2 separate regions of the Homo sapiens genome follow, and region 1 is linked to region 2. The links come from fine-mapping of genetic effects on plasma protein levels. A gene starts in region 2. The other region holds a variant in brackets. All regions are shown on one strand. Distances are from middle to middle. Region 1 overlaps C4BPA (complement component 4 binding protein alpha). Region 2 holds the start of C4BPB (complement component 4 binding protein beta).

Evidence for each region. A credible set is the group of variants that fine-mapping cannot tell apart. PIP is the chance, under the fine-mapping model, that this variant and not a neighbour inherited with it causes the effect. Protein levels are from antibody-based Olink assays in UK Biobank. Linkage for the fine-mapping came from a reference panel and not from the study's own genotypes, which makes the PIPs less certain.
Region 1: its variant is the best candidate, but not a certain one, in a credible set for the plasma level of the C4BPB protein (UK Biobank, PIP 0.55).

Annotation. Positions count from the first base shown.
Region 1 is chr1:207,124,582-207,133,124 of GRCh38, reverse strand. It overlaps C4BPA (complement component 4 binding protein alpha), which reads right to left. Exons shown (of 12, transcript NM_000715.4): 7 at 6,230-6,412; 8 at 1,385-1,579. LOC107985251 (a long non-coding RNA gene) reads left to right here. Exons shown (of 3, transcript XR_007066838.1): 3 at 2,851-6,115. Among named protein-coding and RNA genes, the nearest start is that of C4BPA, 25 kb to the right of the region's middle. The variant G/A (reference allele first, on the strand shown) is at 4,686.
Region 2 is chr1:207,086,502-207,090,281 of GRCh38, reverse strand. C4BPB (complement component 4 binding protein beta) reads right to left here and starts at 1,422. Exons shown (of 7, transcript NM_001017365.3): 1 at 1,336-1,422; 2 at 693-800. The coding sequence starts at 750.

The DNA of each region.
Region 1 (8,543 bases), 40 kb before region 2:
CTTGGATAAATACTACTTCACTTCTGCTTTTAAAATGGTTAAAAATATTCTTTATTAAATAATTAAATCAATAAGATCATAGGGGATCAAATAAATGTAAACAACTGGGTCCTGCTCTGTCATCCAGGCTGGAATGCAGTGGCATGATCTCGGCTCACTGCAGCTTTGGCCTCTTAGCCTCAAGTTATCCTCCTACCTCAGCGTCCTGAGTAGCTGGGATTACAGACGTGTGCCACCACATCCCGCTAATTTTTTAAATTATTTGTAGAGACAAGGGTCTCACTCTATTGCCCAGGCTGGTCTCAAACTCGTGGGCTCAAGCAATCCTCCCGCCTCAGCCTCCCAAAGTACTGGGATTATAGGTAGGAGCCACCGCACCTAGCCTAAATACAACTATAAAGGAGGTTTTTAAACATTTATAAGCAATACTTTTTGTTATTTAAGTAATGGCGGTAAGTTTTATTAAGTATATTTTTAATTCAGTCCTTTTATTAAAATCTTTTATTCTATTTCCCCAAAATGAGTCTGAATAACTGCAATTAAACTTTGTTAAGTCTTAATATGAAATAAGTAATCTTCTGACAGGTTGATCTAAACTACCACTTTTCATTATTTATGCATTTCACAGATTGTTGAAATTCTGATATGCAGCATAAAATTCCCTGTATTCTTGGCCTCAGTGTCTTCACCTCTAAAGTGGCAAGGTTCTGATAGATGGATAGAAGAAAGCATTTTCTTCCTCTCTTGTCTGTTCCACTGAGGCTCATAATATAGTATCCACTTGTCGTTCAGTCCCTCACTCATTTCCACAAATAAAAGAGGTGCGTCTCCTACCAGAGAAACTGGAGGAAGTCTCCTTTCTATCCTTACGAAGTGAGAATGCTCAGTCACGAGTCAGGATTTGTCTTCTAGAGGCAGATCAGGAAGCCCTGCCATCTCATGGTTCAAGAGACATGAGACACAAGTCACCCTGCAGCTGGTTACGCTCATGACTGTTTCACAAACTTGTCTTCTGCCAAACACCCCAAAGCCCATACTGGGGAGGTAAGGGCTATGAAGGAAGCCTGACTCTGACAATAGTTGAGCTGTATTCTCCATTCTAGTTTTACCAGTAAGAAAACTAATACATAATCTGCATAATGTTTGACTTCTGTGTCTACTTCTCATTTGATTCTGAACTGGGATAAGGAAAGGTTACAATTTCTCAGTGCCTCAAACTGTAACATGTTTATGGTCCCCTTCTGGCACTAACAGTTTACTAATCTGTTGAATTAACTTAATTCTAAACTTGTTGTGAGGGATAAAATTATATTCATTTAAGGTAGAGAATCCTAGCACATACTGGACATTTAATATACAAAAATATTAAAAAACAAAAACTCACCCTCACATCCTTGGTATGGGGTCCATCTCAAATTTTTCTGACAAATCACAGTCGTAGGCTCATCTGTAGTGGGTTTGTAGCCAGGATGACAGCGGTACCTTAACACAGTCCCAACAACATACACATCCTCTTTTGTCGGCCTAGGATATGTTTCCCAGGAAGCATGTGGAATGTCTGGTAAATTAATACAACTATCTACTCATGAAAGAAGAAGAAGAAGAACAAAAGGACGCTATTACTAGGGCTGCCACAGCAGTCAATAAGCCTGTCCTATCAAAGGGGGTCATACGTTCATTCAGCCTGGAACCAGCCTGCAAGGCCTGATGTATCAACCACACCAGAAAACACACATGGACATTCGCTCAAATGTGCACACCTCCAGAGAGGCTCTTCACTAAGGGCACTCCCAAGTGGTTTCCATGTGCTGTGCCAAGTATAATAATTTTAATTCTCATTCCTCTTCTTTACATTTCAGAGATTTTAGTTTCTGAACTGAAGCATGGCAGGAAAACTGTCACAAACAAATCTAACTATGTTTACTGATTGATTGGGGAAAATAAACAGGAGCCGTTCCCCTCATCCAGATGATACCAGGAATGACTTGGCAAGAAAAAAACCAAGCTCCAAACATTTTTTGAGCCTGGGCCTTGGATCTTGTCCTCTTCTCTCTTTCCCAATGCTACTGATTCATATGATATGAAAATATAATGCAAACATCTACCACGTTGGATGATTATTGAAATGGAATATAAAAGTTCTTTTTTAACAGCATTATTCAGATTAAAGTCACAACAAATAAATTCACCCATTTAGAATGTGCAATTCAATGGTTTTTAGTATATACAGAGTTGTGCAACCATCACCATTAACTAATTTCAGAATATTTTTATCAACCCAAGAAGAAACCTCATATTCATTATCAGTCACTCCCTATTTCCACCTCCCCCTAGGTCCTGACAACCACTAATCTATTTTTTTCTTTATGGATTTGCCTAATCTGAGCATTTTAAATAAATGGAATCACACAATACATGTACTTTTTGTGACTGGCTTATTTCAGTTAGCATAATATTTTCAAGGTTCATCCATGTTGTAGCATACATTAGTACTTTTTATTTTTCATTTTTATTGCCAAATGATATAATCTATTTTATGGATAAACCACTTTTTGTTTATTCATTATTCATTTGATGGGCATTTGGGTTGTTTGGCTATTATGAATAATGCTGCTATGAATCTTCATGTAAAATTTTTGTGTGTGGACATATGTTTTCATTTATCTTGGGTAGATACCCAGGAGGGTAATTAGAGTCATATGGTAACTCCATGGTTAAACTTCAGCAGGACTGCAAAAACTCTTTTCCAAAATGGTTGCACCAATTTACATTCCTATTAGCAGTGTATGAGAGTTCTAATTTTTCCACATCCTCACCAACATTTGTTATTGTCTATCTTTTTTATTACAGCCATTCTGCTGGATGTGAAGTGGTATCTGATTGTTACTAGAAGGCTATCCTTACAAGAAATGCTAAAGGAAATTGTTCAGACTGAAAGCAATTGACACCAGACGGTAATTTGAATCCACACAGTAAAACAATGAGCATCAGCAGAGGTCATTATGTCAGTAATTTGAACCACAGTATAATATATATTACTACTCCTTCCTTCTCTTAGCTGATTTAAACAGCAATTGCATAAAACAATATGTATATAATTGCATTATTAAGCCTATAACATACAGAAATGCAATATATTTGACAATAACATCACAAGAAAGGTAGGAGGGAACAAAGCTGTATTATAGTACAGAAATGACACCAGATGGTAACTTGAATCTACAGGAAGAAATAAAGAGCGCCAGAAATGAAGAATAAGAAGATTAACATAATAAACTCTCTAAATATATACTTGCCCTCCTTTCTTCTCTCAGCTACTATAAAAGACATGAAACATGAAATTATATAAAACAATAATTATAAAAATTTATTGTGCAGTTTGTAATATATGTAAGTGCAAAATATGTTGTTGGATTCTTGGTTGAGGTTTTTATCTTTCTGCACTTTGAATGTGTCATCTAGCTGCTTTCTAGCCTCCATTCTTTCTGATAAGGAATCAGATGTTAATCTTACTGGGGTTACATTGTACATGATGCGTTGCTCTTCTCTTGCTGCTTTCAAGATTTTCTCTTCATTCTTGGTTTTCAACATTTTGATTATAATGTCTCAAGGTCTAGACCTTTTTGCAATATCCTACTTGAGTTCAACAAGCTTCTTGGATATGTAGATTAATGTGTTGTTTTGTTCTTTTGTTTGGGTTTTTTTTTTTTTTGGTCAAATTTGTGATATTTTCAGCCATTTTTCCTTTGTATAGGTTTTTATCTCCTTTCTCTTTCTCTCATCTTTCTGGGACTCTCATTATACATATGTTGGTACACTTAATGGTGTCCCACATTTCTCTGATGCCATTTATTTTTCCTCATTCTTTTCATCTCTGTGCTTCAAATTGCATAATCTCAATTTATCTTCAAATTCACTGATTCTTTTTCCAACTCAAATCTACTGTTGAGTTCCTCTTTTGAATTTTTCATTTTACTTACTGTGTTTTTCAACTCTAGAATTTCCATTTCTTTTTAAAATAATTTCTATCTTTATCAATATTTTCTATTTGATAAAACTGTCATAATACATTTACTTAATTCTTTAAATATTGTTTCCTTTAGTTCTTGGGACATATTTATAATAGCTGCTTTGTGATTCTTTGAACTTTCCTGCTAAGTCCATTCTCTGGGCTCCCTCAAAAACAGTTTCTATTGTTGGCTTTTTCCCTTTACATGGGTCACTCTTTCCTGTTTCTTTGCACATCTGACAATTTTTTTTTTGAAAACAGAACATGTTAGATAATACATTGCAGCAACTTTGGATATTGATTCTCCCTTACCACCTTTGGGATCTGTTGTTGTTTCCTCATTTTCTTGTTTGTTTAGTGACATAATTGGACTAGTTCAGTTAAGTCTGTTTCCTTCAAAGTGTGCAACATCTAACAGCATGCCTCAGACAGCACAGACTTGGGCATGTACACAGTCTTTTTAACTGCCAGAGATAACTGTGGTTTTCTCTTTGACTGTCTCTTTCTCATTGAGACTTTGGGTGGTCTACCTCTGTTGGTATTACATACAACCATTGGCCTCCAGCAATCTTTATCTGATTGTTCTACTTTTTTCAGCAACTCCCTGGGGCATAATATGCTTCACAGTCTAATCCAATTAAAGTTCCTTGAAAGGGGCAGAGTGTTTACAGTCTTT[G/A]AAGCTTGCTCCAAATCTGCCCTGGAAGAATGTCTGTCCTATAGATCAGGAGCTGGGGGAAATTAGAAAACTCATTCTTTCCCAGGCACTGCACTAGAGTTCTTCTTATGGTGTAGGAGCTGTGAGAAGAGAAAAGGGGGAAGTAGGAACTGGCACTGCCACCCAGCTGCGCCCACCACCAAGTACACATATTCCACAGCGCAGAGCTGGGGAGAATAATAACTGCCAATATTCATAGCTGTCAACCTACCCATAATAGTTCTTCCATTCTAGGAAGCTGGGGAAGATGGGAGATGCCACTTGGCTGCTGAGCCAACTGGAATAGTTCTCGTGCAACATAGAGCCATGAAAAAGGGGGGACTGACTTCTTACCAGCTGCCCCACTTAGATCCTCCCCATATAATCGGAGTTGGGGGTGAAGGAACAGACACTGATGCATGTTTGCTGGCACCGATTCAATATTCGACTTCCACAGCATGGATCTTTGAAAAATACTGTCATGTAATTTTCACTGGCTGCCAAATCCACCCCAAATAACTTTTTTACCCCAGGGAGCTGGAGAAGATGGGAATTGCCACTTGTGGGATGAGCCCACAGAAAACATCCTCCCGCAAGGTAGAGCTGTTGCAGCCCCTAGTTCTAATGCAATGTCCTCCCACTGTTCCTATCAAGTCTCCATATTTTTGCTGAATAAATGCTTCTCGGTTTGTTGTAATCCCTTTGATCACTCTCCAGAGACTTTGAATGGTTTTCTTTGCTAATTTTGACCAGCTTGGTGGATACCTCTTCAGGAGAGAGGTTTCCCCAAACTCCTCCACCACTGCTCCAGAAATCCCCAGAAGTTCTTGACATTTCGTGAGGGCAAAACTTAGAGCACAAGGCATCAGTGGCTTCCTTCTCTTACCAGTTGTATAACCTTGAGCAAGTCTTTTAACCTCTGTGAACAGTTTCTCATCTGTAACATAAGGATAATCATAGTGCCCACAATTGTTGGGAGGATTTGTTGAGTTAATCCTTGTTATGCACCTAGTCTAGTGCCAAGTTATCATTATTACTATTGTCATTATTTTTAATAATCCACGAGTTTATAACTTCAGAGTGTTGGAATCATAACCAGTTCACACAATACTTTTGTACAAGTTATAAAAGGCATTTTTCCTCAGGACAATTTATTATTTGTCTTTCAAAGTAATTATAATAATATAATGATTTTGTTAGAATAAGACAATTTTCTATCAAATTCCATAAAATTATTGAAATAAATATACAAATCCATAGTATCTACAATGTTAACACCTCCCTTTAAGGTTGGAATGTGCACAGTCTTGTGGTATGTGGCAGTTTTGTGTGACAATATATGACCTTGCAGAGTGCACTAAAATCATTCTTCTTTCCAACAAGAAAAAAATAAAGGAAATTATTGATCTAGATGTAAATTTTTACTGTAATTCATAGTAGGCCTATGCATGCAAGTATACCCGTATTAACAGTACGGGGTACCTTTAGATGCCAAACATTGAAATTCTGTCACAGTCCATACTTACTGGGCTCACAAGCAGGAGGAGAAGGATTCCATTTGCTATCAGCATCACAATGAATTACACTGCTGCCTCTGAGAACAAAACCTTTTTGGCACTTAAACACAATAGTGTCTTTGTAATTATAGATGGGTCCAAATCCAGAGACCATTTCCCCATGTGAAACATCTGGCTTGCGACAGGTGATTTCTAAAGAATCATGAGAAAAGACAAGTGGATTTTAAAAGATAGATGGTAATAAGGATATTACTGCCACTGCTAATCCAGTTACAAGTGCAACACAAATGCCTGTTGAATGTGCATGTCAAGTAGATACAAGGGAAACATTTTAAAGTGAATACACATACACAAACGCATACATATATATCTGTATATATAATATATATATATATGTAATCCTTTCAGTACTAGTTTTTATTGGTGGAGAAGTTGAAGAAGTTATCCACAATTACCTCATAGAAAGACCAATGTAATGGAAACTCATTTTACTGAGGCTTTTAAAAGCTGAAATTATTTATATTATGTTAATGATACTTATTATATATTTTATATATTCTATAATATAGTCTTATAGAATATATAACACTATACCAATAGTATTATATATTATATATTTTTATATTTGATATAATATATATTTATATATACACATATGTATGTGTGTGTATATATATAAAATATATAATTTCAGCTTTTAAAATGAGTTTTCATTACATTGGTCCTTCTTCGAGATGACTGTGGATAGCTCCTCCAACTTCCCTACCAATAAAAATCAGTCATACATAACCCAGCAGAAACATATTTCCAAGGCCCCCAAAACTTTCAGTATAATGGCCTAATTTCCTAGATGATTTTGGTTATGGGTCCGTGGCCCATGGTAATTACATAGTGCAGAGGCAGCCCAGGGGATCAGAGACCCATGCCCCGACAAGCAGAAAACAAGCCGCCCCCTATCTCACACCCCTCACCCACATCCTGGCAGTCATCCAGTCCTGGCAATTCTGCTACTTTAATTCCTCTACAATCCCTTAACTTCTGTCCAGCCCCACTGCCATGCTACCGCTGAAGCCACCTTCAGTTTTTGGCTGGAGGGTTGCACAGGTGCTGTCTTAGTCTGTTCCTGCTGCTATAACAAAATACTTTCACTAGTTTATAAATTATGGAAATTTCTTTCTCACAGTTCTGGAGGCTGGGAAGCTCAAGATCTAGCCACCATCAGATTCAATGTCTGCTTGCTCTCCCCTTTCAAGATGGTGCCTTCTTGCTGCGTCCTCACATGGGGGAAGGGATGAAAGCTCTGTCCTCACAAGACAGAAGGGCAAAAGAGACTAGCGCTCTCCCTTCAACCTCTTTTATAAGGGCACTAATCCCATTCATGAGGGTGGATCCCTCATGACTTAATCACTTCCCCAAAAGTTCCACCTGTTAAAACGATCACATTGGGTCTTAGGTTTTATCATGAGTTTGGAGATGCACATTCAAGCCATAGCAGGTGACTGTCAGTTAAGTTTTGTCCCACTTCAGGTTGTTGTCCCACAGCCAGAGTTATCTTTCTAAAATGCAGCACATTTATTCCCCTTGTTAAAGCCTTTCAAAGTCTCCCCTCCATGATTGTTCTGAATGCCTGAGACTGAAACACAAGGCCCTTCATAACCTGGCCCCTGCCCACTTTTCTGCCCTCAGCTATTGCCGCTTTCACTTGTTGCAGATCTAACTCCAGGCATTTTGCACTGTTGGCAGTATCCTGCTCTTTTGTGCCCCTCGTCTGATTGTGTCCTGTGGTGGGTTAGTAAGCAATACTGTGTAAACTTAGTAATATAAAGTAAGATTCCTTAGACTAGCACACTAACTAACATATCTTTTGACTCAATTATCACTTGCTTTGTCCTGTTGCCCTTCTGGCACTCAGGTTTTGCTTGCCCTACAGGCATATGTGTTTCATCTTATAGGTGCAAATTATATTTTCATTTCCGCTTCTTGAACAGACCAAGGCTACATTCCCCAGTCCTCTGAGGCTACTCTCTAGTTTGAGACAAAAGGCTGTAATGGAAAGTGATATGTGGTTGCTTCCAGGCCAAAGCTCTTAGCCAGGACACAATTGGCCTTTCTCTCTTCGTCTACTGAAGAGACTGTGAAGGCACATTTTGAAATGGAGGTGCCATAAGATCAAAGCAACCTGGCTTGCTGAGCTAGTTGCTAAGCTAACACAGACTACGGCTGCCCTGGAGAGTCTCCTGGACATGGAACAAACTCAGTGTAAATGAGAATAAACTTTTACTTCACCAAACCAGTGAGATGTTGTTGCTGTTTGTTCCCATAT
Region 2 (3,780 bases):
CTTGGCATATCATGTGCTGTCAGAGAACCCTTATTAGATTTCCCCATTCTCATGTCTTTTTGCTGGATTATTGATCCTGATTCCTGTGCTCTTCCCAAGTACTCTGTATTCTACTCCCAAGTAGCCGGGACTACAGGCACCCGCCACCACGCCCAGCTAATTTTTTGTATTTTCAGCAGAGACGGGGTTTCACTGTCTTAGCCAGGATGGTCTCGATCTCTTGACCTCGTGATCCGCCCACCTCGGCCTCTCAAAGTGCCGGGATTACAGGCTTGAGCCGCTGCGCCCGGCCGGAATTCCGAAGTTTTATTTTCAAAAGTATAACAGGAATTTTACTCAAATTCAACCACAAGTTGTCCACTTCTAAACAAATAGTCCCCTACACAAATAGCGATCCTGGAGTTTATAACAAGTAAGACCTCCCAGGATTTTGAAATTGGTACTCTTTTTGCTCCCAGAACAGAAAGGGAAAGTAAAAAAACAGTAACCACCCACTTCAGAGATCAGGGTTATCATTAAATGTACACTAAGCTCCTATTGAGTGCAGAGCATTAGGCCAATTTGAGATTTTTCAATAGAAGAATAAAGATATTATAAATGTAAACTTCCTTAAAGCCCTAGACAGAGTTCCTCAAAACACCGCAAAAGGACACCAAATGCCTGTAAGCTGAGTTGAAGGAAAGCATACGTACCATCTGAAGCAGAAACTCGCCACGCAACCATAAGACAGCACGCACACCAAAAAAACATCTGGTGATCAAAGTCCTCTCCCCAGGCTGGAATTCACCCAGCTCAGACACCTGGTTTGAAAAAAAATAGATCTTCTAACACTGCTTAAGACCAACCTAACCACCTCCTCTCTAGAGAAGAGGTTATATTGATTTACCCTCCCTGGAGAAAATGAAAAGAAAAAATCTTACGACAGGAAATCAGAACAGCTGTAAGGAAGCTGGTATAGGGAGGAACTGCAAAAATACAAAGGGATGGTAAAAGAGTTGCCAGGTTTAAAACTCAGTTTCAGAAATTTCCTGGTTTCTGGGAATGCAAATCCAGTTGACCAGTCTTTTTGAAACGCAGGCTTATCCTTCCCCAACAAACATGGGCCAAATGGTCTTGCCATGACCTTGACTTCTGTCAATAGTTGCCAATGTTTACAGTCCAACTTCTGTAACTCTGGCCAGCACTGGGGAAAGAGAACGGGCTGTCAATCCCTGGTTCTTGCCCAGGTAGAACACAATTTTGAATGCTACCTCATCCTCCTTTCCTGAATACCAGATATCCTAAGGCTGTAAGCAGCACTGAAGACGAAAGCTCAAGGAAGTAAACTAACCTTACCTGTCTCTGTCCCTCCAGAGTTAGGGCTTCCCAGCAAGGAACTGGTCTTAACTGACTCCAAAGCTGAGAGCTCCAAAGTCCTGCAGTGACACATTGTTCTCGCTTGCCAGGCCTGTACCCAGGCTTCCTACTTTGTGGCTCTTCCAGGGACAGGATTTGGCCTGAGTCCAGAGTTAACCAAATGAGTAAAGAGAGAGGTGAGGAGAATGCTTTGGTCTCAGGAATTAAGGCATGTAAAATTGTTTTGAGGGATCCCATATCATCTTGCTTGTGACTACTATAACCCTTGGTTGGTTCTCTGTGCTGTAATTATGAAACTGGGGAAAAATTCCTACAAAATTTCAGGTTTTAATAGAATAATAAAGCATTAAGGACACAGTAAGGTTGCAAATGTTCTTCTCTTCTCCATCCATTACTACTGTTTGTGATGATTAATCTATGTCTTTCTCCTGAAAGGAATCAGGATATGCCACCCCCAAATATTTGGCGTTAAGATTCTTTTAAGCTGAAGATATTTGAGATTCAGTGATATGGAAAGGAACAGAGATTTTGGGGGCTTTCCTTATCTGACTAAAGGCAGCAACCTTGGAGATAAGGTTGCCATAAATTCCTTTTCAGGGTAGGTCTATCCTGGAGGGGAGAGCATGAGTAAAACATATTTCAAATTCCTTCTCCAGAGAAATTTCATGGCCTTGAAGGAGACAGAAAGAACACTCGTACTTATATACACAAACATTATCACAAAACTTTCTAATTTCCTACTTTTCCCCTGAAAACCCACTTGCCTTTCCAAAAAATAATCTGTTTTCTTTTTTGTTTGAGATGGTGTCTTGGCATGATCTTGGCTCACTGCAACCTCCACCTGCCAGGTTCAGGCCATTCTTGTGCCTCAGTCTCCCGAGTAGCTGAGATTACAGGCATGCGCTACCACGCCTGGCTAATTTTTGTATTTTTAGTAGAGATGGGGTTTCACCATGTTGGCCAAACTGGTCTTGAACTCCTGACCTCAAATGATCCACCCGCCTTGGCCTCCCAAAGTGCTGGGATTATAGGCATGAGCCACCGCACCCGGCCAATAATCTGTTTTCTTGTAAGTGCCTTTCTTCTCCCCACCTTCACCTATTAAGATGATGTATAAGCCCCAATTCTAACCAACTTTTTGAATTACTTATCACTGAGTTTTCCCACATGTACTCAAGTTACATGTATAAATAGAATTTTCTCTCCTGTTAATCTGTCTTAGTCTAATTTGCAGGTCCCAGCCACTGAATACAATATGGTAGAGGAAAGGTGTTTTTTTCCTCCCCTTTATTCCCACAGGAAACTGCTAACTCCAGGACAGGGTTTGTGTCTGATTTGTATTTGTATTCCCTTCCACGGTGCTTCATATTGCAAAGCAGTTGTCTGTTAAATGAATGAAAGTAATGCAGAAATAAATGAAAAAAACTGTCATCCAGAAACTCTACCACAGCCCCCAAAATCCATATGATCACTTGCCATTTATCACATGCTGCCTTATGATTTTTTATGTCTTATCTTTTCTTAACTAATATGCAAATTCCTATAGTGTAAGCACCCTCTAAGACATGATTTTCAAAAAGTTAAAAATATGACACAAGTAAATATAAGATGAATATATATCAAAGATTTAATTCAACTCATTAATTAATGAGGAAACATTCAGATGCTACAACTGGTTCAAAGAAGAATTTGAGGAATAGGAATGCATATAGTCAGTCAGTCAAAAGCATTCTGAAGTGACCTTTCCAATAGATACAAAACTGGTTAATATCCTACAGAGTAACAAACTGTAATATTTGCAATTAGCTTTTCTACCTGGTGGAAAGTAATTAAAACAAAATGGACAAAATATATTTGCTCTACTATAACCAGGAATCATTTGCATTGTTCTCAGATAAGAGTCATTTGCATTCCTATAAATTTACTGCAAATTAACCTCTATGCTTAAAGAGTTCTAAAAGAACTTTAAATAAAGTCAGTCAGAGATCATCTCCAGAGGGCCTGCTAGAAAATGCCCAGGAATCCATTGAGCATTTACTCCAGTGATCTCTTTTTGCTAATCCTAAGCTTTGAATAATTTTTATTTACATACCCCATGTTCTACTTCTTGAGGAATGCATGTTCTTCAGTATCTTTTATAGATTTATATACAGAATGTTTGTACAATAAATTATTTTAAAAAGGAAGGAAAATCTAGTTTAGCCCTACATAAATATGGACATAAAATAGAACATGTATTACAGGAAATAATTGCAAGTAATTCTTCATCTTAATGGCTTACTTCAGATTCAGAACTATAGGACTTTAGAAACCATATCACTTATACTATTGTCTTACTAATATTTCTCCATAAAATATAAAAATACAAAAATATTCACACTAAGTGGGCTCTATAGAGACAATAAATAGCATCACAAAGTTTGG